2 separate regions of the Homo sapiens genome follow, and region 2 is linked to region 1. Evidence: fine-mapped expression QTL. A gene starts in region 1. The other region holds a variant in brackets. All regions are shown on one strand. Distances are from middle to middle.

The links. PIP is the estimated chance that this variant, and not a neighbour inherited with it, causes the effect. A credible set is the group of variants that fine-mapping cannot tell apart.
Region 2: its variant is the best candidate, but not a certain one, in a credible set for the expression of XRCC5 in hippocampus (GTEx, PIP 0.56).

The regions. Positions count from the first base shown.
Region 1 is chr2:216,107,636-216,110,504 of GRCh38, forward strand. It overlaps XRCC5 (X-ray repair cross complementing 5), which reads left to right and starts at 1,713. Exons shown (of 21, transcript NM_021141.4): 1 at 1,713-1,822. The coding sequence starts at 1,802. RefSeq lists an enhancer at 1,437-2,058.
Region 2 is chr2:216,085,824-216,088,739 of GRCh38, forward strand. All of the region lies in intron 1 of TMEM169 (transmembrane protein 169), which reads left to right. Among named protein-coding and RNA genes, the nearest start is that of TMEM169, 5.4 kb to the left of the region's middle. The variant A/AG (reference allele first, on the strand shown) is at 1,355.

The DNA of each region.
Region 1 (2,869 bases):
TTTCTCTCTCTCTCTAGCTCTGGATCGTACAAGAAGGGAGACAAGGACCACTGACAAGATATGGTATGTGATACTAATCAGATTTGGCTTCTTTCTGTCCTGCTTCACCAGAGGCTGGACTCTCCTTGTTTCAGTTTCTCCGCTTTCCACAGATAAATCTTTTGTTTCCCGGATAGCCACTTGGCCTGTTTGCCCTTTGCTCCCATTTTTCCTTGTTTGCTTCTTTGTCTGAAAATTTATGCTGTCCTGCTGCCTCCGCTGGGCTTCGTTTCCACCTTTGCTGGAGGAGATTTAGCTGACAACCTCACAGATCTTCCCCGCCCCTTCTGCCGAGCTGATCTTTCTCTTGGAAATCTTACCCGCAGGGAAGGGCGAGTGTCCGTGCCTGCCTGCCTGCCTGCTGCAGCCCGCGCAAAGCTGAGCGGCCAGGGCGCTGCTGTTCCTTTAAAGTATTATTAAAAATAATATTTCAGCTTTTAAGTAACTCCTTGAGTTTGAATCAAAAGCTGGAAGAACCTCCTGGGCTCTATGAGCACCTCTGAATATGTCTGACTCTACATTCTAGAGGCTTCAATGTATTTATAATTTTGGCTCATAGATTCTCCACATCTTTTCAGCTTCAATTCTTGCTTTTCCCAGAAACAATTTTCAAGCAGGAGAGAATATTGATTGGACTTGATTTTCTCAGTTTGGGCAGAGGTTTGCAGACACTTTGCAGGTTGCCAGACCCTTCGTCCAGCCACCTGTCAGCTGGGGGTCATATGGTATAGAAAGCAGTCATTTCTATGCAAGGTACTGCTTGGGCCTGCCTCCCTCAAAGGGGTAGGGGATGCGGGCTGGACAAAGGGCTCGTGATCAAGTAAAGCACTGTGATGACAGCTGCTATTTCTATATCTCCCTAGACTTGTCTTCTAAATTAAACCTTGACTCCTCCCTTCCAAGCTGGAGCCACTGCTAACTACTGGGAGAGCCTTAGCAGATAAAGTCTCATGCCTCCAGGCGTTTGTGCATCCCATTTTCTCTGCAGAGTAGAATCTCCCTTCTACTTTTGTGCTCCTGGGGACGTCCTACTCTTCTTCCCCAGTTGGCTCTAAGGTTATCACATCGGTGAAGTGTTTCATTATCACTTTTTAGAAGAAACTGAGTCTTTTAGAGAAGTTAAGTGACTTTCTGCATTCATACTCATACTCAAGAAAATCTAACTCCACAATAACCAAAAATAAAAAGTAGAAAAAAACCCACAAGTGATGAGAAAAAAAAAAATCAAAAGTTATAAAAAATAAATGAAAAAATGAAATTAAAGGAAAAAAGATTTTTTAAAAAAGTAAAAAAAAGAAAAGAAATCTAACTCCAGAGCTCTGACACAAAATGCCTTAGGTGTTATTCTCAATGAGAGAAAAGGGACGTGAATCTTTAAGTGATTAAGTGAATCTTTAAGTAAATCTGTCGTACTAGCGTTTCAGGCGGCTCAAACACCACACGCTCCCGACTACGGCGGAATGGAGAGAATGTGCGCATGCTCGGCGGGAATCTGCGCATGCTCGGCGGGAATCTGCGCATGCTCGGAGAGAATCTGCGCATGCTCGGCCGGAATCTGCGCGAGCTCGGCGGGAATCTGCGCAAGCTCGGCGGGAATCTGCGCATGCTCAGAGTTCCGGGGCACGGTTTCCCCGCCCCTTTCAGGCCTAGCAGGAAACGAAGCGGCTCTTTCCGCTATCTGCCGCTTGTCCACCGGAAGCGAGTTGCGACACGGCAGGTTCCCGCCCGGAAGAAGCGACCAAAGCGCCTGAGGACCGGCAACATGGTGCGGTCGGGGAATAAGGTATAAAGAAAGCCATGGACTTGGGCTTTACCCGGACTGGGGATCCGGAGAGGGTGGTTCGGAAGCAGGAATCGTGGGATCGCGGTCAAGACAAAGAATGGGGCAAGAGAAGATCATGGTGGTGGGCTCAGTCAGGAGGGCCGGGACCGAGGGATGCGCTATGAGAAAAGCTGGAGATTTGGGGCTCCAAGACCTGAATTTGAGCCTCGCTGACTCCACCTCTTCCATTACCCACCCATCCCATCCCTCTTCTCCCTCTCTACCTGCTCTTTGTCTCACCTGCCTCCCCACCCGCCTCCCCTCTCTCTCTCTTTATCCCATTCCACTCCCTAGCCCCACTTCCTCTATTACTTCCGAGCCTGGGTTCTTAAGATCTCTATGAGAATGAAAATTAGCTGTGATAAAGCAACTATCCCACAGGGCTTGTTGTAAAACTTAAGAGAGGGACTATCTGTGACTAAAATAACTTAAACTGTAAAGCGTCGTATTATTAGCTTTATAATAACGTAGTATCCCGCATTTATTGAAAGCCCACTCTGTGAGGGACGGATCTAAACCTTTTATTCTTATCTCATTTAATCTTCACAACCCCTTGAAGTGAAAACTATTTATCCCCATTTTGCAAGTGGGAAAACCGAGGAATAAAGAACTGTGGGCTTTTCCTGGTGAAATCCGGATTTGAATCCAAGCTGTCTGGTTTCAGGGCCCTGGAGAACCCCTGTGTTGCTAGAAATCTATGACCATTGGTGTCCCAGATCAGTAACAGAAATTACAATGAATTTTAAAGTGATTTTTTTTTTTCAACATAAAAGAGTGGTAGTTGTCTCTGAAGGGTCACTAGAGGGAGATGTGGTTCCAGGGATTAATGAATTTATTCAATACAGATAAACAAGATACGAGTTTGAGCAACTGATCCCTAGTTCCCTCAACTCCTCATTGAGAAATGTTGATTAAAACGATCATGAACTTTTAATAATGCCACTCACCTCCTTTTTTCGTCCTCTTTCAGCTGCTGAAAACTTTGTAGCTCTAGTGGAGGAGCTGTTT
Region 2 (2,916 bases), 22 kb before region 1:
TCACGCCATTGCACTCCAGCCAAGGCAACAAGAGTGAAACTCCATCTCAAAAAAAAAAAACAAAAACAAAAAAAGAATTATCTGGATAATTTTTTTCAAGAGTGGCTTAAAAGCAGTTATTCTAAGCACGAGTTCCAGAGTATGAGCATGTTCTTAAAAACCTGTTTTCCCTCCTACAATGACCAAGAGTACAGAGCTAATGGTTGATTGAAGCTAACACTCTGTAATATCACATTTGTAAGAATCTTTTTTTTTTTCTGAGGCAGAGTCTCACTCTGTTGCCCCGGCTGGAGTGCGGTGGTGTGATCTTGGCTCACTGCAACCTCTGCCTCCCGGGTTCAAGCGATTCTCCTACCTCAGCCTCCGGAGTAGCTGAGATTACAGGTGTGTGCCACCATGCCTGGCTAATTTTTGTATTTTTAGTAGAGGGGGTTTCACCATGTTGGCCAAGTTGGTCTCAAACTCCTGATCTCAAGTGATCCACCTGCCTCGGCCTCCCTAAGTGCTGGAATTACAGGCATGAGCCACCGTGACCAGCCTGTTAATAATCTTTAGACTGGAAGTGGAAGTGGAAGATGGGCACAGCTTAACTGCCAGAGAAAAGAACAAAGTCCTCTCTCTTCTCTCAAGTCTATTGATTAAAGCCTTGGAAATTGGGTAAAATTTTCTTTTAACCTCTCTCTTGTGAAATCTAAAAGGAAGGAGAAATGTTTAGAACCTGCTTCTCAGATCAAATACTTACAGCATAATAAAGTATACAAAAATGGGGAAGAGAATCAAGCCTTTCTTTCTTAACAGTTGTTTATGTCATATTTCTGGTAAGACATTTTCTCTTCTGTGTCCTATGAAGTCAACAAGTACATACTGACTTTGTACTACATGTCCAGCCCTGGGGTTTTCCCATTGGTGGTTAAGAAGAAGAGTAAGACAGTTCCTAAACTCTAGAAGTTTGTTATCTACCTAGAAAGATGAATGAAAACTCATGATGCCATCTATAATCTATACAATGATATGAAATGCTGCATAATTAAGTATTAAGTGTATGGTTCAGATGGCAAATGCTATTAAATTACAAATAGAAGGAGGCAAAAGAAAGGGAATAGAAACTAATATTTATGAAGTGTCAGTCACATATTAGGCATTTTATACTGGGCCATTCATTGAATTCTCACCACACACCTGCAACACAGGGTTAGGGTGGGAGGAGAGGACGTGGGGGCTGGGGTAGTCACAGAAGGGGACGTGAGCGAATGAGTCTGTCTTGAGCCAGGCTTGAAAGATGTGGAGAAGCGTGACAAAGATGAAGAAACCAACATAAGCACATGTGTTGAGTAGTCACGTTGCAGGAAAGGGA[A/AG]GGGGAAAATTGCTACTGAATCCTAGGGTGGGGTGCAAATACGGAGAGCCTCAAACACCAGACAGGCCTTCAGATATATTTTAGTCAGTAATGGCAAGACAAAATAAAAATATTGTTTTGTTTTGTTTATTAATCACCATTAATATGGTAAAAAATGGTAGAGGAATGTCTTCCATTTTAGAATGTCTTCCAGTTTAGAGGAAGTAGTATGAAGGCTGTATTCTGGCATATGGTGGTAGTAGAAATTCAAATGAACAAATTAACAAAAAGATTTCATAGGAATGACTAGCAGGACTTAGAGACTAATTATTATTAGGTATATGGAAATATGTCCTTAATATAGGAAATGGGTTCATCAAAGAACATTCTAGAAGTTTATAGATCTTTGCATAAATGTTGGCGGGTAGTATGGCACAATGAAAATAACATGGGCTTTGAAATTAGCAAACCTGGGTGTCAGTTCCAGTCCCACCACTATACTAGCTATGTAAGCTTGAGCAAATTTCTCCTCTAAATGGGAATAATAAAGGTACCTACTTCACTGGTTTGCTGTGAATATTGAACAATACGATTATTGTAAAGTACTTAGAGCAGCACTTGGCACACAATAAACATCCAATAAGTTTCTGTTGTTACTATTATTCAGTCCAAGTGTCCTCTTCTGCAAAATAATACTTGCTTCATAAAATTGTTGTACCTAGGCTGGTATGGTGGCTCACACCTGTAATCCCAGCACTTTGGGAGGCCGAGGCAGATGGATCACTTGAGGTCAGGAGTTGGAGACTAGCCTGGCCAACATGGTGAAACCCTGTCTGTACTAAAAGTACAAAAATTAATTGCACATGGTGGTGTATGCCTGTGGTCCCAGCTACTCAGGAGGCAGAGGCACGAAAATCGCTTGAACCTGGAGGCTGAGGTTGCAGTGAGCTGACATTGCACAACTGCACTCCAGCCTGGGTGACCAAGCGAGACTCTGTCTCAAAAAAAAAAAAAACAAACAGGCCGGGTGCAGTGGCTCACGCCTGTAATCCCAGCACTTTGGGAGACCGAGGCGGGCAGATCACAAGGTCAGGAGATCGAGACCATCCTGGCTAACACGGTGAAACCCCGTCTCTACTAAAAAAGAAATACAAAAAATTAGCCGGGCGTGGTGGTGGGCGCCTGTAGTCCCAGCTACTCAAGAGGCTGAGGCAGGAGAATGGCGTGAACCCGGGAGGCGGAGCTTGCAGTGGGCTGAGATCACGCCACTACACTCCAGCTTGGGCGACAGAGCGAGACTCCGTCTCAAAACAAACAAACAAACAGACAAAAATTGTTGTACCTAGAACAACTATGCAATATATAGCACATAGTGTTGCTTAATAAATATTTACTGAAGCTGGGCACAGTTGCACATGACTGTAGTCCCAGCTACTCAGGAGGCTGAGGTGAGAGGATTGCTTGAGCCTAGGAGTTCAAGTCAAGCCTGGGCAACATAGAAAGACCCCATCTCTAAAAATAAATGAATACGTAAATATTTTTTGAATGTGTAATTCAGTGAGATAATGCATGTACTGTATAAT